2 separate regions of the Homo sapiens genome follow, and region 1 is linked to region 2. Evidence: fine-mapped expression QTL. A gene starts in region 2. The other region holds a variant in brackets. All regions are shown on one strand. Distances are from middle to middle.

Evidence for each region.
Region 1: its variant is fine-mapped to the expression of NR3C1 in whole blood (TOPMed, PIP 0.98).

What each region holds. Positions count from the first base shown.
Region 1 is chr5:143,378,310-143,386,309 of GRCh38, reverse strand. The region is part of intron 2 of NR3C1 (nuclear receptor subfamily 3 group C member 1); the gene reads left to right. Among named protein-coding and RNA genes, the nearest start is that of NR3C1, 21 kb to the left of the region's middle. The variant G/T (reference allele first, on the strand shown) is at 4,348.
Region 2 is chr5:143,398,927-143,414,390 of GRCh38, reverse strand. NR3C1 (nuclear receptor subfamily 3 group C member 1) reads left to right here and starts at 10,705. Exons shown (of 9, transcript NM_000176.3): 1 at 10,705-11,180; 2 at 13,539-14,735. The coding sequence starts at 13,552. It overlaps LOC128966704, which reads left to right and starts at 5,830. Exons shown (of 2, transcript XM_054328421.1): 1 at 5,830-9,057; 2 at 9,475-9,725. The coding sequence starts at 8,750. The coding sequence ends at 9,505. RefSeq lists enhancers at 8,500-8,549, 8,270-9,036, 8,870-9,109, 9,510-9,649, 9,690-9,759 and 2 more and silencers at 9,810-11,079, 11,320-11,399, 11,610-11,709, 15,287-15,356.

The DNA.
Region 1 (8,000 bases), 24 kb after region 2:
ATATAAATGCTATGGTTTGGCTCTGTATCCCCACCCAAATCTCATCTTGAATTATAATCCTCACATATCAGGGGAGGGGCCTGGTGAAAGGTGATTGAATCCTGGAGGCAGACTTCTCCTCTGCTGTTCTCATGATAGTGAGTTCTCATGAGATCTGGTTGCTTGAAAATGTATGGCACTTCCCTCTTCACTCACTGTCTCTCCTGCTCTGCCATGTGAAAACATGGTTTCTTTGCCTTCCACTGTGAGTGTAAGTTTCCTGAGGCCTCCCAGTAATGCTTCCTGTTAAGCCTGTGGAACTATGAGTCAGTTGAACCTCTTTTCTTTGTAAGTTACCCAGTCTCAGTTAGTTCTTTATAGCACTGTGAAAATGGACTAGTACAGAAACTTGGTACCAGGACAGTGGGGCATTGCTATAAAGATACATGAAAATGCGGAAGCAACTTTGTAACTGGATAATGGGCAGAGGTTGCAACAGTTTGGAGGACTCAGAAGAAGACAGGAAGATGAGGGAATGTTTGGAACTTCCTAGAGACATGTTGAATGGTTTTGACCAAAATGCTGATAGTTATATGGACAATAAAGTCCAGGCTGAGGTGGTCTCAGGTGGAGATGAGGCACTTATTGGGAACTGGAGCAAAGTTCACTTTTGCTTTGCTTTAGCAAATAGACTGACAGCATTTTGCCCCTGCCCTAGAGATCTGTGGATCTTTGAACTTGAGAGAGATGATTTAGAGTTCGTGGCAGAAGAAATTTCTAAGTAGCAAAGCATTCAATATGTGGCCTGGCTGCTCCTAACAACATACAGTCATATGTGTTCACAAAGAGATGGTCTGAAGTTGGAACTTAGGTTTAAAAGAGAAGCAGAGCATAAAAGTTTGGAAAATTTGCAGCCTGACCTTGTGGTAGAAAAGAAAAACCTATTTTCTGGGGAGCAATTCAAGTGAGCTGCAGAAATATGCATAGATGAAGAGTAGCCTAATGTTAATAGCCAGTAGAATAGGGAAAATGTTTCCAGGGCATGTCAGAGACCTTCATGGCAGCCCTTCCTATCACAGGCCTGGAGGTCTAGGAGGAAAAAATGGTTTCGTGGGCCAGGCCCAGGGTTGCGCTGCTCTCTGCAGCCTCAGGACATGGTGCCCTGCATCCCAGCTGCTCTAGCTCCAGCTGTGGCTAAAAGGGGCCAGGAGATAATCTTGGGCTGTTGCTTCAGAGGGGGTAAGCCTCAAACCTTGGCAGCCTTCATGTGGTGTTGGGCCTATGGGTGTGCAGAAGGCAAGAGTTGAGGCTTGAAAGCCTCTGCCTTGATTTCAGGATGTATGGAAATGCCTGGATGTCCATGCATTCTGCAGGGGCAGAGCCCTCATGGAGATCCTCTGCTAGGGCAGTGCAGAGGAGATACATGGGGTTAGAGCCCCCACACAGAGACCCCACTGGGGCACTGCCTAGTGGAGCCGTGAGAAGAGGGATACCATCCTCCAGACTCCAGAGTGGTAGATCCACTGACAGCTTTCACCATGTGCCTGGAAAAGCTGTAGGCACTCAATGCTAGCCTGTGAAAGCAGCTGCAGGGTCTGTACCCAGCAGAGCCACCAGGGCAGAGCTGTCCAAGGCCTTGGGAGCTCACCCCTTGTGTCAGCGTGGCTTGGACATGAGACGTGGAGTCAAAGGAGATCATTTTGGATTTTTAAGATTTAATGACTGTCCTGCAGGTTTTTGGACATGCATGGGGCCTGTAGCCTCTTTGTCTTAACCAATTTCTCTAGTTTGGAATGGGGGAATTTACCCAATGCCTGTATCCCAATTTTTTCTTGGAAGTAACTAGTTTTTGATTTTACAGTCTCATAAGCAGAGTGGACTTGCCTTGACCCAAGAAGACTTTGTACTTGGACTTTTGAGTTAATGCTGGAAGGAGTTAAGACTTCCGGGGACTATTGAGAATGCAAGATTGTGTTTTGAAATGTAAGAACATGAGATTTAGGAGGGGCCGGGGGCAGAATAATATGGCTTGGCTGTGTGTCCCCACCCAAATCTCAATCACTTGTAATCCCCACATGTCAGGGGAGGGGCCTAGTGGGAGGTGACTGAATCACAAGGGTGGACTTCCCTCTTGTTGTTCTCATGATCGTGAGTTCTCATGAGACCTGGTTGTTTGAAAGTGTGTGGCACTTCCCCCTTCTCTCTCTGTCTCCTCCTCTGCCATGTGAACATGTGCTTGCTTCTCCTTCAACTTCCACCAGGATTCTAAGTTTCCTGAGGCCTCTCAGTCATGCTTCCTTTGAAGCCTGTGGAACTGTAAGTCAATTAAGTCTCTGTTCTTCATAAATTATCCAGACACAGGTAGTTCTTTATTGCAGTGTGAAAACGGAATAATACAATAGATTTCCCCAAAGTTGGGTTCCTGAGTCAGGGGTATGTGTATTTAAAATTTTAACAGATATTTCCAAATTACTTTTTTCGAGGATTATGGCAAGTCACAGTTCCCCCTGGCAGTGTTTATACTTTTCTTTATAATAAAAATACATAAATCATTATTACTAACAAATTCCTTGCCATGAGTCCTAAATTGATAACAACATACCAGTGTGCCATATAACATAGCTGAGGACTGTTGCAGTCTAGAATTCAGGCTCCTTCTCTCTGCTTTTAACAATATGTGTAATGTTCAAGACCAATTTAGTGCCACTTATTTTGTATGCTTTCCTTTATGTAGTCCAGGCCATAGCCCCCCACCTCATCTGATGGTATCCTCTGGCAGCCACAGACCACACAGTTCTTTCTACCTAAATTAGTCATTAGCACATAGTAGGTACCCAGTAAATGTTTGTTGAATTAATACTGTTTATATATTTCTAATTTATCTCCAAGTAAATCCAGTCTCCTTAAGGACAAGGAACGTTTTCACTATAACACCTAGCACTTAAGGTACTCAATTTAGGTAGGGCTGTTTGAACAAAGAACCACAGAGGAAGCAAATAGCATGGCCTTGCCTTTAATACATATATTTTACTTTCTCTTAGGGAAAACTGGAACTGTAAGAATCTAGTAACAATAATAAGAACAGCACTTTTATTGAGCAGTTACTATATGTGAGGCACAGTTCAAACTGCAGAGGATACAACAGTGGACAAAGCTTTAGTTGTTTCTGCCTTTCTGAAGCTTATGGTTTATGGGTGTTACATTCAAGACATTTGTAGGACACATTCTAAAATGCCATCCAATTTCAGGCTCTTTCCAGCAGAAACTGTGGAATATTTTTCCGTTCATTCAGCATTTACTTAGTGCCTGCTCTGCCAGGAATTGAAGAGAAAGCCCAAAGACAGGCAGACCTTACCTGAGAGGTAGTGAACTGACCAGGATGACTGTGGGCAGTAGACTTGTTTCCCAAACTAGCCTCACCATTTCTGTATTTGCATATACGAGGAAAGGATTAGATATAGGGATTCATGTCAGCATACACCCCAGGGACATTTGTTTTTAGTGAAAGGTGCCAGTCTTCATCCCTGTACCCAGTACACAAACCACGAAGAAGTATGCTCCCGTCATTGTCAAAGAATCATAGAATTCCAAATGGAGCTAGTTTTGATATCCAGATCTCACTTCATATGAGGAAACTAGGTCCAGTATTGTGAGTAAGAATTAGGACTCTTCAGATTCCCTGGGTATGAATCTGACTAACAACTGTGTGAACTTGACCAAATTCATAACCCTGTAAACTCTGTTTCCTCACTTTTAAAATGGGCACAACAAAGTGATGCATGTAAACTGCATAGCACAGTGTCTGGCACTTAAAAAGCACTCCTGAAGTTATTTTTAGTGATGTGTTTTAAGATTAGACAACTCCTTAATGCCAAAGGTTTTTACTTGAGAACTCTGTCTGTTGTGCCATACTACACGCTGTTCATAAGATAAGCCTTTTTCATTAATTGATCTCAAACTGGCTTCATTATGATCTTAACTTTATTTCAGTTTTATTTTTAAAATTTATTTTTAATTTTTATGGGTATATAGTAGGCATATATATTTATGGGGTACAGGTCATGTTTTAATGCAAGCATGCAATTGTGGGGGTGATATATAATTGACTGGGGTGAGATATCTCATTGTAGTTTTGATTTGCATTTCTCTGATGATTAAGGATGTTGAACATTTCTTCATACACCTGTTGGCCATTTGTATGTCTTTTGAGAAATGTCTATTCAGATCTTTTGTCCATTTTTTAAGTTGGATTGTTTGATTTTTTCCTGTTGTCTGAACTCTTTATATATTCTAGTTATTAATCCCTTCTCAGATGGGTAGCTTGCAAATATTTTCTTCCATTTTGTGGGTTGCTTCTTTGTTGTTTCC[G/T]TTGCTGTGCAGAAGTTTTTTAGCTTGATGTGATCCCATTTGTCCATTTTTGCATTGGTTGCCTGTGCATTTGAGGTATTACTAAAGAAATCTTTGCCCATACCAGTGTCCTGGAGAGCTTCCCAAATGTTTTCTTTTAGTATCCTAGTTTCAGGTCTTAGATTTAGGGCTTTAGTCCATTTTTATTTGATTTTTATATGTGGTGAGAGATAGGGGTCTAGTTTCATTCTGCCTATGGATATCCAGTTTTCCCAGCACCATTTATTGAAGAGACTGTCCTTTCCCTAGTGTATGTTCTTGGCACCTTTGCTGAAAATGAGTTCACTGTAGGTGTATGAATTTGTTTCTGGGTTCTCTAGGTCTGTGTATCTGTTTTTATGCTAGAACTATGTTGTTTGGGTTATTATAGTTTTGTAGCATAATTTGAAGTCAGATAATGTAATTCCTCCAGTTTTATTTTTTTTGTTCAGGATGGCTTTGGCTATTCCGGGGCTTTTGTGGTTCCATATAAATCCTATGATTTTTTTTTTCTATTTCTGTGAAGAATGTCATTGATATTTATTAATAAAGATTGCATTGAATCTGTAGATTGCTTTGGGTAGTATGGACATTTTAACAATATTGATTCTTCCAATCCATGAGCATGGACTATCTTTCTTTTTTTGTGTGTCCTCTTCAATATTTTTCCTCAGTGTTTTATTGTTTTCATTGTAGAGCTCTTTCACTTCTTTCGTTGAGTTTATTCCTAGGTGTTTTATTTTATCTGTAGCTATTGTAAATGAGATTACTTTCTGATTTCTTTTTTAGATTGTCCTCTGTTGGCATCTAGAAATGCCACAGATTTTTGTATGTTGATTTTGTATCCTGTAACTGTACTGAATTTATCTGTTCTAATATTTTTTTGGTGGAGTCTTTAGGCTTTTCCAATAAGATCATACAGTCTGCAAACAAGAATAATTTGACTTCTTCCATTCCATTTTGGATTCCCTTTATATCTTTCTCTTGTCTGATTACTCTAGGTAGGTCTTCCAGTACTTCCAGTTGAATAACAGTGGGCACTCTTGTCTTGTTGTAGATCTTAGAAGAAAGGCTTTCAGTTTTTCCCCATTCAGTATGATACTAGCTGTCAGTTTGTTGCAGATGGCATAACTTTCAAACTAATTGATTATAGTTAGGAAGTGGATACTTTAACTTGTGGTACCATTATCAGATTTATATTTCGGCCATAAGCTTGAAGAGGAGCTGAAAAATGCATATGTGATGCATATGCTTCCTATTTGGCTCTCTTCTCCCACCCCCCTGCCCTATAATCCACACAAGTTCCTCTCTCAGTCACTCATCAACTACTTGAACCTCTGAGGAACTTGGGGTTAAGGTAAATTAGAATAAAACTGTCTGAAGAAGAGCAAGCCTTTCATGTCTTGAGAAATTCTTGGGGTTTTAGAAATAACTTCATTGCTTTTTTTCTCCAGTTACTTTGGCTTCTTCTTAAAGAGAATACTAACACTTTGAACGTCATAATACTAAGGTTCTGCCTCTTCAAATAAAGACTTTAAAAAAAAATGGTTTTTGTATGATTCAGTGTGAATTAAATCCCACAGTGTAAAGGACTTTACTTTCTTAATGTAGATTTTCAAATACACAATTACTGATGTTTATAAGTAGATTTATTACACCAAAGCACCTAGCAAATTCTTGAATGGATCAGGTCTTATTTTTCAGTCTTACTTTGCAAATTTAAGTCAAATAATTAAGGATTTGTTAAATATTTGTCTTAATATCAAGCTTTTGCATATCGGGGCCCTCTTTTATAAGCTTTATAAGCAATCTTTTGTTTTCTCTGCTTGCTCAAAGTAGCTATGTTTGTTGTATCTGTTAGTATTTGCTCTATAACAAACATACTGGGTGCCTTCCCACTTAGATTTGGCAATTATCACTCCTGTAAATGAGATATTACATAAGATAGGAAAAAGAACAGTATCTTTCCAAGAAGAATAGTATCCTTCCATATTAACAGTTTAGAGCTGACTGCTTTTAAAATTTAGTGGCTTTAAAATAACAACCATTTATTATTCTTCATGAGTCTACAAATGAGGTGGGCAGTTCTGCTGATCTGGCCAAGCTGAACTTATCTCAGCTGGGCACATTCAGCGTATCTGCTGTCAGTTGGCTGGTTGGCTGTAGCAATGAATGGTGAAAGTAGGCTGCCCTTAACTTTTTCACACAGTAGCATTAGAGTTACAAAAGAACCAGCAGAACCATGCAAAACTCTTTAAGACCTAGGCTTGGAACAACTATATTTCTACCACATTCTATTGGTCAAAGCAAATCACGGGGCTAGTCTAGATTCAAGTGGGTGGAGGAGCTGCAATTACACTGCAAAGGAGTGTGACTGTAGGGAGAGGTGTTTTTTTATTTTTATTTTTTTGCGATTTGTCACAGTAGTTGTAGGAATCAGGTGTATTTAAAATTCTGATCCTTCTGTGATATCCGAATTGTTCATGAACCTTGCCTCTGGTGGAAAGGCAGAATCATTGTGACAGAAGGATAAAATCTTGGAATTTAGAGACTAACAAAGGTTCAGATTCCAGCTCCATCACTTATTTCTGCAATCCTGCAGAAGTTAATCTTCCTGATAGGCATTCAGTAATGATTGATTCACCTGAACCTCAGATTCTTTATGTATTTTAAAGAAAGGGCTAGGTAAATGCAAAGCACTTATGTAACTGCTTTTATTATTGCAAACCTGGCTCCCACACTCCATTCAAGGTGTAAGACTCAGTGTCTTCCTTGAATTAAAAAGGAAGAGAAAGTGTGTTAGGGAAAGGAAGAGAAATATTTGACTAATTGTGGCCCCAATAAAGTGACCACTCACTGGGGGTATTTTCCTGTAAGAAAAGAATGGTTGAGGCTCAGAGTTAAGAGATACAAATCCAAAAGTCTCCTTGGGGTAGGATTCCCTGTGATTCATGGGTTGAGAGGTGTAACATTAGACACAGTCCCAGTCTAGATTTTTTTTTTAAAGAATTGTAGTCCATCCTATACACACTGGGTGCCTTAATACTATATGTGGCAATTATCACTCCTATAAATCAGGTTTTACATAAGATAGGAAAAAGAACAGTATCATTCCACATTAACAATTGAAAGATGACTGCTTTTAAAAAATTAAAAGGGCCATATAGAAATAAAATCACATAAATTTCTTGTGTTAAACATAGTTGTCATATTGGATGAGGACTAAACACCTAAATTCATCCAACTAGTAGTAATAGAAAAGATGAAACACACACACAGTAAAACTAGATTAATTTAATTTATACAAAGGGCCAGATATCTCAGAATTCAGACAGTCAGAGATGTTGACTAGAGTTAATGCCTCTTTTAGGAGAGGTACCAGGTAAGTGTTCTCAAAGAACTGGAAACTGAGACCACCACCTCTGGCATTATCTATTTGTGAACACAAGCAAGTCTGAATTTTTCCGCACCATAGCTACCTTTCATGTAAGCTTCTTTTCTTAGAAGAAAAGAAGGTAACATTTGGGTGTAATTTTTTATTAAGGGTGAAATTTAGTGTAGAGAGTAAAGGCATTTGGCATAGAAGCCCTTAGTTTTTTTTGTTTTTAAGTTGAACTGCCAGCCTTTATGGATTG
Region 2 (15,464 bases):
CCTGCCCAGTGCAGAGGCTTGAGACATTTGCGTGACATTCAGCTTGTCAAGACAGAAGGAGCAAAATAAGCAGACAGAGGCTCACTGCAGCCGCCTATACCCATCATATTGTTGGAATCATATTCAAGTGAGACAAACTCCTTCAGTGGAAGACGATAAAACTAGCTTAAAAGTTGTAAACATCACTTCATCACCCAAAAAAGGCCCAATTAAGTGGAGATACTATTTCTGCAAAGCAATCATCAATTCATTTGTGTAACATTTGAAATTTCAAAGTACAAACCCACATTCTATTAAAGGCAGGAAGTGAAACCAATAAAACTTGTAACAACTATACTTAATTTTCAGGGTTCTTTCCATTGCTGACAAACATTTTAAGTCATGTCTATTCTCTTAAAATGTAAAATATGATGTTTATGTCACTGTTAATATTTTGATAAAAAGCTATTGTCATGGACATCTGGGTTTTTTTCTGCATGCCCAGAAATCCCTTTTCTCCTATTTAAATTTAAAATCTCCAATTATTTGGAGAAGCACCTCCTCTTCTCTCTCTTTCATTTGTACCCCATTCTTAGGTGTCAGTGGTGGGCACTTGAGCTAGGCTTTGCCCATCATAGTACACATTCCTGACATCCCTTGGTCATAGTTATTGGTCCAGGGATAAGCATTTGAACCAACTAGACCAGTGAAACCCCTCCCAGGAACAACTACTAAAATTATGGGAAAAGAACTCTTTCCACTGAAGTTACTAACCTGGCAGGATGTGTTAAATCCAGGTGCCACAGGCCACCAGGTGGAGAGGTGGAGATAATCTTTCCAGAAAACAAAACAAAACAAAACAGGAAAATGAAGCTAAGGGATAAAATTTAAGCCCTTTGGACTTCATTTGAGCCCCTGAATCCAGTCATGCCTCCTGAAATTAAACTTCCCCTGGACTTTTCAGTGAATCAAAAAACTCTGTTTTTAACAGTGGGGTTTCTTATAAATGCACCAAAAAATGACCTAATGAATGTTGTCTACAAGCTTCCATTAGAAGTATTATCTTCAAGAGAAAAAAAAAACAAATAACTTGAAGAAAACCCTTCATAATTCAAGTCAGTCCTGCTAACCTCTAGGAAACCCTCCGTGACCACCATCTCCATATCCACACCCATTTTCCTAACCTTAAACACCAGATGACTTCTTGAAGCTTATGAAGTGCCCTATGCATCTAACACATTTCTGTAAGTCTGCATTGTTCTATAATGACTTGTAACCGTATCTGTCTCCATTTCCTCCAGAGAAGAGATTGTTATCATTTTGATATCCCTGCAGCCTTATACTGGGGCCTAACATATAATAGTTGCTATTTTGTTGAAGGAATTGTATTTTGTTGAAGGAATTCTCTTTTGTTGAAGGAATGAATGGAGAGAATATTAATTAAGAAAGTCTCTTCTATTAATAAACATTCCCTGATTGATTGAAACCATGCCTAAAATAGCTAATCATCAGAAGACCAAAGTAAACAACATATCCAAACTGAATCCTCAAAGTGTTAGTCATTGGTAGCTGTATAGCTGAGAATCTTTCCTTCTTCTGGTCATTAGGGTTGAAAGGGTGGGTGAATGTGGAGACATGATTCTTTCTTTTGCAAAACATTTACTATTTTTTAAACTCCATAAAATGTAATAACTTCTCTTGAAAAATGTTAAAACCCAAACAAAAAAACCTGTAATGTGGAATATAGATTGTAGGTTATAATGGAGGAAGCAGGGAAAGTGGGGAAAACTGTGGTTGCCAGAAGTTTTCTGATAACTAATAGGCAAGACAATAGGGTGGCTTTTGGTAGGGTCCTTCTTTATGGCATAGCAAAGAAAAATAGGAATGAAGAAGTGAGAAGCATGAAAGGGGACAGCAATATATGTGTAACACAGGGTGATTCAGTGTGAGAGTTTTATAATTAAAATTGCCAAATGTGAGAAAAAAAAATCTACTATAAATTGGGATAGGCTCAAGGCATGGAGATGAACAAATAACCCCTCCATGTGGGCAAAAATCAATGAAATTACTAGATGAGTAGCTTAGTATGTGAGTTCCAGTTGCAACATGTTACTGGTATTTGGGGCTTCCCCTCCCCCCTCCCCCCCTGCACTTTGAGGCAATTCGACATTTGACTAACAATCCAGCCTAACTTTCTCCATCTGATATAAAGATATTTACCTTGAAATCCTAGAACTGCCAACATCTCCTACTTCCTACTACAACCCTCCCTGACTCCTTTTCTCTGGCACAGCTTTCTATGCACTCACCCCATTCAACTAAGCCTGCTTACTCTTCACCAGAAGGTCTTCTCTTAGCATAAAAAGTTCCTGGAAGTCCATCTCTTTCATAGAGCTGCTGGATGACTGCTTTGCTTACCTTTGGCCTTCAAAATACCTCTCCTGTCCAACCATAGCTCCCCAGCTCCCCTGCCATTGCAACCAATACAAACTTCGTCATCTTTCCTTGGGCCAATGTGCCTGTCTCCTCACTGCTCTCCCTGCTTTCTCCCTTAGCCCCTACAACTCATACTCCACATCGCAAGCAGAACGAGCTTTTCAAATAGTAAATTAGATTATGTCCATTAGTGTGTTAGTAAATGTTTAACAGCTCCTGAGGGGAACAGAGTATCTATGTGTTTTATAATTTTTACATATATGTATCACATAATTTACAAAAAGCAAGAAAAAATATAACACTCTTAATAGTAAATTCTATATGGCCATGTGATTTTCACAGAACCATTTCAGTGATTTTTGCAGAATATTTGTGTCCATAGCCAACCTACAGCTAAAATTCAAACACGTTTGGCAAAATCAGACCACAAATAAATATCTGATTAATATCCAATCAGCAAAGAAGTCATTCATGGTACTGAAGTCCCAACATGAATGTTGGTTGATATTTTTACATTAATGAGCGAGATAAAAGTGAAGCAACAAAAATGGATGTTGGAACTAAACTCGTTCATTAATGACAGAAGTGACTTCTTTTGCTGATAATAGCTTTCAAGTACTAGAAAAATATTTCCTCAAGTTTTTGTGTTCACAAACTAAGGCACTTTTAAGTTCAATCTTCATTATTAAAATTTCTTCTACTCTGTCAGTCTAGACAATCAACAAAACAAATCAAGCTCTGGTTTGTCATGTTTCCCAATTTCTATAGTATAGGTACTCCACCATGGTTGATTTCAAACTACCAAAATAACATTTCTGAATGCAGCGTTAGGAAGGGATACGCTGCATCATACCATCGTATGGTATGTTCTTATACAGAACAGACAGAAATAACTTTAAGAACATAGATAATAGTAAAATGGAGTAAAATAATTAGGCAGTAAAGTCTTCAGCATTTATTTTTGTTGTTAAAATATTTGATTGTGAGTTTATAAATAATTTGGTTTTTAATAATGACTGTGATTAACAACCAACTTACAAAATCTCTGAAAATTTAACAGTCAGTGCTTGCAAGCTGGTACAATTGTTTCCGGTGCACTACTGAATTATCACTCCCCTGCCTAAAATTCCAGACTGCCCATTGCACTGATTCCCTGGGAAATAAGTGAAAAGAGACAATGATAATTTTCATTTTTGTTGTGGTGAAGTGATAGTGCAAAAATTCCATAAGCTCCTCTAAGTTTTCCAAATAAAGCTTAGTGTTTAAAAACGTTTGAACACATGATCCCATGTAAGGCCTACATTACTTCCTGTGTGATAGGTGGGGTAGATATCATTATCCTTCCTTTACAGATTGAAAAACAAGGCTGAGAAAAATCAAATGCCTACCCCAGGCTCATTCAAGTAAGTAAATGGCAGAATAGGGTCTAAAAACCAGGTCTTGTATTGAAAATTCAACAAGAGGATAGAGAAAATTTAATTGACAAATACTGATCTCAAAACAATTTTTTTTTCAATGGTGACAAATGTCCTTTGTAGCACTTTGGAGTTTGATATGAAGTATCTTCTTATCTTGTTAAGGGATCCCTATACCAAGAATGTTTTCATCTCAACCCCACTATTTCTAAGTTAGCTTAAAAACAAAACAAAACCCTGTGTGCTCTAATAAGAAGATATAAGAACCAAAATGGAAATGCAGGTTCTCAAATGAGCTGAAAGATTCCACATAGCAGCGGGGCAGATTGAAACACTCTTTACCAAAGGAACATGGGAGAGAAAAGGAGATTAAATCAAGAAAGGAAGAAAGCTAATGACATATGAGGAGCCACAAATGCCACAAATGAAAAAACAAAGTACGTAATACTTGTTGCAATTATTCAGTGTGCTTGCTCTAATGCCTCCAAACATTAAAAACATTGAGTTCCTGCTTATGGCAACATTTATCTCATTTATCTGCTGATAGCTGCCTCATCCTTGAATCAGGTATTGCTTAAACTAAGTTCTGCCAGCATAAAGAATAAAGTCAACCAGGACACCCATTGGGCATTTCACGCATATGAGCACAAATTGTGATATTTTAGGTTGCTTATGATGAAATCATTGAAAGCATCATGAAAGACAGCAAAACAGCAGGAAAGCTAGTAATAATTTAGCATTTCCCAGTCCAGGCGGGAATGTTAATTCTAATTACAACGAGGAATACCAAAGTGGAGTTCATTATGATTAAGAACTTGCTGTACTAGTGTGAATTGTTTATAATAGGCATGTCTGGCATAAAATACAAATATTGAAGCAGACAGAGATGGCTCATTCAAAGCTCAGCTGGGTTCCCTTGAACCTCTTACCTTATAAAGTTAAATAGGAATAGAAGTATTTTCCAAAGTCAAGATATTATTTTAAAGAGACAAATAATAGCTATGATAGCTGCAGGAATAATTTTTTAAAGTAAGTTCTAACCACCAATAAAAGCTGTTTGTGTGGGCTTAACATGTTCAAAATACACAATACACATGTACACAATACACGTATACATGGTTCCCATTTATATTTAACATCACACATTTAAAGTGAGAGAGTACAGAAAAAAAGAATAAATGGAAACTGAAGCCATGACAAAGAATCACGGACTATAGGAAAATAAGTCACAAAGAAGTATGCTTATGTAAGAGGAAATATATGTGATAAACAACAGGAGACATGGGAATGAATGTGGTGTCTTATGTCCTTTCTTTAACAGAATCGTGTAACAGACACTACTCAATATCGATCTCAACTGATCCAGTTCTCCAGTCTCCCTGGAAAACAATGGATTGATGCCCAGGGTGCGCTGAACACTGGAACCATGGTCACTTCTGCACTTCACACGATTCTGCTCCCACCAGTTGAGCTACCAACAGTTCCTGGTGCTTTTGCTTCCCAAACATGTTTATGCCATTTGTTGCTTATTACTGTACTTACTTAATTTGATTAAATATTAAGTAAAATGATGAAATGAGTGTAAAAAATTGTTCTATAAAATCTAAATGGAAAGATGCCCTATAGCCTTCCTTGACTTACAGTTGCGTCAAGTAAGGTGGATGTAAGACAATTTTAAAAGACTGGTGTGGGGGCAGGAGTGAGGAATCATAAAAATTTAGAAATCTGCACGAAAATTATTCTAAAAGTACACATTGAACATCCCTAACTTGAAAATCTGAATTTTGAAGTGCTCCAAAATCCAAAACTTTTTGAGCATTGTTATGATACCACAAATGAAAAATCCTACATGGAAGTACTTACCACAAACTTTGCTTCATGCCCCAAATTATTTTAAATATTGTATAAAATTATCTTCAGGCTATAAGGTGTATATGAAACAAAAAATGAATTTCCTATTTAGACTTGGGTCCCATGGCCGAGATATCTCATTATAATGCAAATATTCCAAAATCAGAAAAAAAAAAATCCAAAATCTAAAACACTTTCAGTATTAAGCATTTCAGGTCATGGATACTGAATGTGTATCTTTAATTTCTTGTTCTACTTTGTTTAAAAAAAAGGGGGAAAATAGTAATTCTACAGATGAATAATAATTGCTAATGATGAGCAAATACTTCCTATGACCCAGGAATTCGTCTAAGCACTTCACATATATCAAACTGGTTTAATCTTTATAAATCAGTACTATTATTATCCCCATTTTACAGATGATGGAAAAAGGCACAGAGAGTTAGCCTGCCCAAGGTTACATTCCTTTTAGTGGTGGAGACTGTATTTGGCCTTTATAGTCTGGCTTTTAACTGCTACACTATATCAATGCATTACAGGTATAGTTTATACACACACTAAAGAAGACATGGAACTCCAGTCAGTGGGCTCATAAAAGCTTTAGACCTTCATCAAAAGATTAGAAAATAAATGTTCAATCACAGGTTTTAGGTTTCAAAAGTTTCAAAAGTTTAAAGTTTGCAAGTTATCTTTCTTAAAATTATTTCCTTCTTTTAACTAATTTTTAAATTAAACTCCAGTTCAATCACATCCACTAGAAGGCTTCACTTTCTACAAAGGGGTAGGTAAAGGTGATGATCTTAAATACCATACTGGGAGTTGGGATCTGTGTAGCACTAGAATCAAGAGTTATTGTATATACTTGAGAAGGAGCACAGCCTGATTTAGTTGATGTTTTGGAGGGGTAATCTGGCAGTACAGCTTGGATTATTTTAGTGGGAATGGAGATGACAAAACATGAAGAGAATGGGAGAACTCACTTGGGTAATATATCAGTTTCTGAAATCAATGTATCAAGTGGTTTGGTTATTAGTCAGGCTTAAGGTTTTATTGGCCTTAGGACATAGTCTCTAAGACCATATATTATCTTCATTCATTCATTTAACCAACACCCACTGAGCACCAACTATGCACTAGTGATACAGGGGTGAACAAACAGACACAGTCCCTGCCTTTGCAGAACTTATGTTCTGGTGGGTGATACAGAGAAATAACAAATGAGGGCACAAATAATGAACTATCATTGTAATGTGCTAACAAAGTATGCAGAATACTATAAGAACATACAATCAAGAATCTAATCTAGTTTATTTTAAAAAAAAGTGGGGGGAGCACTCAGATGTTTAAACACAAAACAATAAAAATGAGGATCTTGAGGGTTATCTGTACACTTTTTATTAACCCATTTGGCCACAACAATAACCCAGTAAAAGTGATTTTACATCTAGTTAACTAGTTGACTCAATGTTATTATAACCCTGTAATGTATTTGTTGGGTGCCTGCTATGTAGTGGGCTGTGTTCCAGGAGTGGGACATAAAGCTATGACAAGATAGATCAGGTCCTTGCCTTGACTGAGTCTGAATACATCACCTTCATTTCCACCTCTGCTTCTAAGACAATCAAATACCTTCCCACTCAGATAGGGATTCATCCTATTTCTTGTAGTAATTATAAGTTCCCAGGGTTACAGATTAGTAAATGCCATACCTAAAGACTTAGGATACTGTGCATAAAACACTTTCAATAGTGTCTGTCAGACAGCAGATGCGCAATAAATGTTGACTTTCGTTAGAATTGTGTTATTATTATAATGCTAAATCTCACGTCCTTTCTGGCACACTGGAGTTCATCTCTTCAATTAAATTCCGTAAGCACATATTGTAAGTAGTCTATCAGAATTGATATACTACTTCATGTTAATGATTGAGATCAGTGAGGAAAACCACTTTAATATTGTCTAATTCCTCTCTTAATGCATAGGAGCCATGTGAACTTAGACAAGCATCAACCTCTGTAAGCCTGTTGTCCTCATATTGAAAAATCGAATAACAATACCTATCTCATTTAATTGTTGTCAGCAAAAGTGGGCAGCAGAAGAGTGGGGATCAATAAATGTTAGCCACAAATCATAACTATTTGTATTACTCTGAAAAAGAGGGGTTAACTTATAGTTCATGCATGCTTCCAAATGAATGTGAAAGACTAAAGAATGAGAATTTTTTTGCTATCAAATTAAAAAATTAACAGGCACATTTAGATTGCTGAAGAGAGAAATTAGGATAAGTTTTTTTTTTTTTTTGCTCAATTAAAAACGTTTTCAATGGCATATTTAAAACTACGTATTCTTCCCCATTAAGATCTGCAGAGAAAAAAAAATGAAGGGAGAATAATTGGGAACTCTTGTGAAATCATAAATTATTTAAGCAGAGTACCTACCACTAAGGATTTGAGCATGTATGAGCGATGAGGTGGATTCTTAGAGCAGAGATTCAGCAGTGAGACAGGCTAATGGCATGGGGAGATGTGTTCTATTAGACAACTGTATTGTCCCCTTAATTATATACATATATATGTATATAATATATATGTGTATACATATGTATACATACATGTATATATAAATAGAATTCTTAATCATTTTAAGCAGTGTACAAGGATAATTATTAGCATGGGCTATTTAACTCACTTTTAAAACGTGTAAAACATTATTGTAGGGTTGGGTCTTGATTTGTTTCCCATGAAACTGTTGGTAGTTTAGGGGCCAAATTAACGAAAGACATCTCATTCTAGTGCTTGAGGCTCAGAAATTGGAAAAACGGGCAACTAGGTCAAGCAGTGTTCTCATAGCCTCACAGATGAGCATCCAAAGCAAGGGCCTCCTTCTAGTTGACTTGTGCCAAGGGACAGGAGAAGCGGAGTCTGCCTTCTGGGTCCAGAAGGGGGTTTTGTTAACATGGAGTTGCTCAGCGCCCTTCATAAAAATTCTTCTGGCTGAGGGTTCTACGTTGGCATACGGTTGGTTCCCTCTTCTTTTCCGAGGTGGCGAGTATCTCTTCCTTTGCCAAGATGGCGGCTCCAGAATCCTCTGGAGGCGGCCCCCGTAGATCGTCTCCGGACAAGAGGCTTGCTGAAAGCCTACTTCTTTCCTTTCACATCAGACAATGCACAGGGAACCGTTTACCCTTGAGAACCAAGGAAGGACGGCTTAGGCTACCCGCGATCGCGAACCTTTGCCAAGATGGTGGCCGCGGGGACGGGCTGGCGACACTGTACCCTACCAAGATGGCGGCGGGCGGCTTCCGGGACGCGCTTCCCCAATCGTCTTCAAGATGTCAGAGCAGGGGGAGCCGCCGTCAGTCTGAGCGCGGCGGGAGGTGAGAGAGTGGCTGTGGCCGAGCGCCCGAGCAGGATTAGGTGGAGCTGCGGCAGCCCCCGCCCGTGTCAGGAGCTGGCAAGCGATGTCACCTGTGGGGGCGCAAAAGTTACCTCCCCAAACCCTAAACCCACACAGCACAACCTTTCCCAGAGTCACAAAAATCATAATCTGTGCCGCACAAGGTAGGAGGCTCGGTCCCGGCATCGTCCAAGCCTTCCCGACGCGGCGAGCTGGGGAAGGGAGCTGGGGCGGGGGCTTCCCGCACGGGCACCCCTCGCCCCACGGCCCTCTCCTTTCTCAGGACGGACCACGAGTTCCCTTCCCCTTGGACTGAGGGGGAAGCTCCTAACAGGAACATCTGTAGGGAGTTGAACGCTGGCATTTTAAAGCTGCCTGTATTTTGTTTTATTTGTAGGGGCAGGGGTCCTATGAACGTGATAGGGTGAGCAACGCACAGAGTCGAGGGCAGCAAATGTCAAGATTCGGGGGTGGGGCCTGCACCGGGAACTTGGACGCGGGCCCTGGCCGGGGTGGAAGAAGAGGTCAGGAGTTTCGGAAGGGGGGCTATATTTCGCCAGCAACTTACTATTTCGCCTGCAACTTGCTTTTAAGCCTGCCGCCCCCTGCTTTCCTTAATCATAATAATAAAAAAAAAGTGCAAAGAAATCCAGCTCGCTGGAGGTTTTGCATTTGGCGTGCAACTTCCTTCGAGTGTGAGCACATTGGGCGGGAGGGGTGGGGGTTGAACTTGGCAGGCGGCGCCTCCTTCTGCCGCCGCCGCCGCCTCGCAGACTCGGGGAAGAGGGTGGGGGACGGTCGGGGCGCGGGGGAGGGTGGGTTCTGCTTTGCAACTTCTCTCCCAGTGCGAGAGCGCGGCGGCGGCAGCTGAAGACCCGGCCGCCCAGATGATGCGGTGGTGGGGGACCTGCCGGCACGCGACTCCCCCCGGGCCCAAAGTACGTATGCGCCGACCCCCGCTATCCCGTCCCTTCCCTGAAGCCTCCCCAGAGGGCGTGTCAGGCCGCCCGGCCCCGAGCGCGGCCGAGACGCTGCGGCACCGTTTCCGTGCAACCCCGTAGCCCCTTTCGAAGTGACACACTTCACGCAACTCGGCCCGGCGGCGGCGGCGCGGGCCACTCACGCAGCTCAGCCGCGGGAGGCGCCCCGGCTCTTGTGGCCCGCCCGCTGTCACCCGCAGGGGCACTGGCGGCGCTTGCCGCCAAGGGGCAGAGCGAGCTCCCGAGTGGGTCTGGAGCCGCGGAGCTGGGCGGGGGCGGGAAGGAGGTAGCGAGAAAAGAAACTGGAGAAACTCGGTGGCCCTCTTAACGCCGCCCCAGAGAGACCAGGTCGGCCCCCGCCGCTGCCGCCGCCACCCTTTTTCCTGGGGAGTTGGGGGCGGGGGGCGAAGCGCGGCGCACCGGGCGGGGCGGCCACGCCAGGGGACGCGGGCGTGCAGGCGCCGTCGGGGCCGGGGTGGCGGGGCCCGCGCGGAGGGCGTGGGGGCAGGGACCGCGGGCGCCCCTGCAGTTGCCAAGCGTCACCAACAGGTTGCATCGTTCCCCGCGGCCGCCGCGCGGCCCCTCGGGCGGGGAGCGGCCGGGGGTGGAGTGGGAGCGCGTGTGTGCGAGTGTGTGCGCGCCGTGGCGCCGCCTCCACCCGCTCCCCGCTCGGTCCCGCTCGCTCGCCCAGGCCGGGCTGCCCTTTCGCGTGTCCGCGCTCTCTTCCCTCCGCCGCCGCCTCCTCCATTTTGCGAGCTCGTGTCTGTGACGGGAGCCCGAGTCACCGCCTGCCCGTCGGGGACGGATTCTGTGGGTGGAAGGAGACGCCGCAGCCGGAGCGGCCGAAGCAGCTGGGACCGGGACGGGGCACGCGCGCCCGGAACCTCGACCCGCGGAGCCCGGCGCGGGGCGGAGGGCTGGCTTGTCAGCTGGGCAATGGGAGACTTTCTTAAATAGGGGCTCTCCCCCCACCCATGGAGAAAGGGGCGGCTGTTTACTTCCTTTTTTTAGAAAAAAAAAATATATTTCCCTCCTGCTCCTTCTGCGTTCACAAGCTAAGTTGTTTATCTCGGCTGCGGCGGGAACTGCGGACGGTGGCGGGCGAGCGGCTCCTCTGCCAGAGGTAAGAAGCGAGGCGGGAGGGGGCCGGGGCGCGCTCGCTCCCCCGAGGTGCCGCTGGGACCGGAGACAACTCGGGGGCCGCCGCGGGAGCCTACAAACTTTTATTAGCCTCGGGGAGTGGGGGTGGGGGGCTGGCAAGGGCCGGGCGACGGTGACGAAAGGGCAGCGCGCGGGTGACAGCGCTGGCCTCTTCCTCTCCCTCCGCAGGCGTCCCCTGGCCGGGCCGAGGGGGAGGAACCTGACCTCGGACGGCGAGCGGAGCCCTGTCGAACTGCCGGGGGCTTCGAGCCTCTCATTCCTCGCGGGAATCCTGGCCTCTTTTCTCCCCCTAGTGTCCCCTTTCCCTCCAAGGGGGTCGCCCGACACCCGTTTTCGTGGTGAACGCTAAGCCGCGTCTGAATTTTACTCGCCCGAATATTTGCACGCCACCCCGGCGCGCCCGAGCGCGAGCCCGGGCTCCGGGGAGGCCCCGGCGGCGCCTGGCTTGAGGAGGGCGTGCGGGGCGCGTGAGGGTGCACACGCGGGGGGCTGACAGCCCGCAACTTGGAGACTGCGGCCGGGGCCGGCGTTATCTGTTAGAAGTGGGCGTGTCGGAGAGAGAACTCAACAGGTCTGGACGTACTTCTCTTTTAACCTCGCACTTTTTTCTCTTCTCCACCCCCGCCCCGCAAGGGCTTGCTCTTTAGCGTTTGTTGTTAATTCGCGCCTGAGGTTTCTAAGTGGCCCCTTTTAGAAAAAGACCCCCTGTAACCGTAATGGTTTTGTGCTGCGATTTTTACAAGTGCTAGTTTGACGTTTGGGGTTGCAGACTTGATAATTGCAACCTTGTAATACCACTTAAGACCCTCTGGCATGGTTCATTAGGGCCAATTAATGTGGCTGGGTTATTTGCAACTTAAACTGGGGGATAATGTCGCTTGAGGGAGCGTTTTCGTTTTAGGAAATATTGTTTTGGTTTCGGGTTTGAAGGCAGCTGTCAAAAAAGCGGCATGGAAATTCATTGGGCTCCATTCGATACCTCGTGTTTAGAGATCGTTATCGCCTCAGATAAACGGGGCAGAGAGGTGGGGAGATAAGCAGTTTACCCTCAAGATTTGTAGTGGCAAGTCCACACCCCTCTCTCTACCTTCATATTCACTTTTCAGTGAGGGCCAGTGACATTTATGCTGCCTAACGTCATCGCATAGGAAAAGTTACCTTTTATTGGACGGGATTTGACTATAGTGTCCCAAATGCGCTTCTCCGTCTTAGCCCATCTCTTAAAACACCCTGATTAACGATATACTAACAGTCTTACTCTCTTGAGAATAGGCTGAGAATTGGGATAGGTGAAGGTTTGGATAGGTGAAGGCAGAGAAAATTATTTTGAACATTTTACTGGATACAGTTGTACCTGAATTTATATGAATGTGATTTTACGGTTCTGTGTTTTTCCATTTTTCAGTACTTCGATATTTGTTTGGAAAGGAAAGAACTTAGAGATGTAATAGCATTTCATATTGAGGATCTCAAGCAATGTAAACAAATGTAGCTTAATCTAGATGTTTTTGTGAGTTATGATAAGGGTCAGCTATATTTAAGTTATGTAAGCTAACAACGTAGTGAGAAACTACTACACCTTCTCTTCTGCTCTTTAAAATCTAAATTTTAGTTGGCCTATATAAAGTGTATCTCATTTCATATATCCAAAATTTGGAGGTAGGCACATCCAGTCAGAAGTATGGGTTAAAAAGCCTTTTCCCAGCCTGTCGGAAGATAAGCAGATCAGCATTGTTTATTTTTCAAAGAAAACGTGCATGGTTCACCAGTTGGTTGTACTCAAAGGTTTGGATGTGTGACTAGCTGGTAGGAGGGAAATTTGGAAGTAATTAGGGATTGAGAATTCTAGCATAGTATTTATCAAATGTTATATGTATTGGTTCTCAGAAAAGCAAACAGCCGTGATTGAAAAGAGGTAGGAATTTTAATGATCACACTTCCTTTTTTTGAAATTAAATACTTTGACATCAACTTGAACCTTCAGAATAATCAGATGTAATGAATTATAATGTCTGTGATTAACAAAGCTACACGTTCAGTGAGCGGCAGGATGAATAGCCAAGCTTAGTTCGATACACTTTTGCCCTCAGCTGTGCAAATGGATTGCATTGTACTTTTAAATGTGGCATGCTGAATGGGAGCAGGGGACATGGCTTTTTATTCTGGAAGATAGAAACTACTCTTCTGGTAACAAAGAATTTGATTCGGAGTTAACTAAAAGGTTCATTTAACAAGCTGCCTCTTACTAATCGGATCAGGAAGATAATGTGACTTTAGAGCTTATGATGTTTTCCCCCCGTTTTTGTTTTTTGTTTTGTAGTTGATATTCACTGATGGACTCCAAAGAATCATTAACTCCTGGTAGAGAAGAAAACCCCAGCAGTGTGCTTGCTCAGGAGAGGGGAGATGTGATGGACTTCTATAAAACCCTAAGAGGAGGAGCTACTGTGAAGGTTTCTGCGTCTTCACCCTCACTGGCTGTCGCTTCTCAATCAGACTCCAAGCAGCGAAGACTTTTGGTTGATTTTCCAAAAGGCTCAGTAAGCAATGCGCAGCAGCCAGATCTGTCCAAAGCAGTTTCACTCTCAATGGGACTGTATATGGGAGAGACAGAAACAAAAGTGATGGGAAATGACCTGGGATTCCCACAGCAGGGCCAAATCAGCCTTTCCTCGGGGGAAACAGACTTAAAGCTTTTGGAAGAAAGCATTGCAAACCTCAATAGGTCGACCAGTGTTCCAGAGAACCCCAAGAGTTCAGCATCCACTGCTGTGTCTGCTGCCCCCACAGAGAAGGAGTTTCCAAAAACTCACTCTGATGTATCTTCAGAACAGCAACATTTGAAGGGCCAGACTGGCACCAACGGTGGCAATGTGAAATTGTATACCACAGACCAAAGCACCTTTGACATTTTGCAGGATTTGGAGTTTTCTTCTGGGTCCCCAGGTAAAGAGACGAATGAGAGTCCTTGGAGATCAGACCTGTTGATAGATGAAAACTGTTTGCTTTCTCCTCTGGCGGGAGAAGACGATTCATTCCTTTTGGAAGGAAACTCGAATGAGGACTGCAAGCCTCTCATTTTACCGGACACTAAACCCAAAATTAAGGATAATGGAGATCTGGTTTTGTCAAGCCCCAGTAATGTAACACTGCCCCAAGTGAAAACAGAAAAAGAAGATTTCATCGAACTCTGCACCCCTGGGGTAATTAAGCAAGAGAAACTGGGCACAGTTTACTGTCAGGCAAGCTTTCCTGGAGCAAATATAATTGGTAATAAAATGTCTGCCATTTCTGTTCATGGTGTGAGTACCTCTGGAGGACAGATGTACCACTATGACATGAATACAGCATCCCTTTCTCAACAGCAGGATCAGAAGCCTATTTTTAATGTCATTCCACCAATTCCCGTTGGTTCCGAAAATTGGAATAGGTGCCAAGGATCTGGAGATGACAACTTGACTTCTCTGGGGACTCTGAACTTCCCTGGTCGAACAGTTTTTTCTAATGGCTATTCAAGGTAAGATCAGTGTTTTTCTGTTTCTTAAGAATGGTACATTTAAGGTAGATTAATAGATGTAAATCTTCATTGATTTATATGTGTTCTCTAAAGATTCATGTGCTTTTTTATATGAATAAGTTTAAGTGGCCTTTTGAAAGTAGGAAAGGTAGACAACCTAAGTGACATCTGTACGTAACCATTTCAGGTTTTTTCCTTAAATAGTGGTTTTCAGTATCCCATTGGCCAACGGTGAGGATTTTATTTAACATTTTTAAAATAATGTTGCTCATTAACAGATATCTTAACGAAAAATTATATAAATTCAGGAGAGTATAATGTCTCATAATATCATATTGTGTTGTGCATGGTCATTCAGCTGTTTTAGAATATGTTCTTATATTACAATAAATGATACCCTTACTTACATAGTCAAAAGTTGTGCTGCCTTATTTGTAAATTCGTTAAGTGTTAGCTTGAGATTAAAGAGTTAAAAGCAGAAGTACTAACAAAGAGCCCTATTCTTCAAACTGAATCTTCTGTTAAAGAATTTGAGTTTTGAAGTTGCTAAAGCAATGCAGTGAACAGTGTACCAGACCATAGTATTAGACACAGGTCTTGCTCACAGGGTTCTTGCCATAAAGTAGACAAGTTATGTCTGCTGATCAATCTCTTTAAGAGAGGAATTGGTGTCAACATGGTGCAAAACAAAATTTTACGTTCAAATGTTCCTGCAAGTTCTCAAGTAGA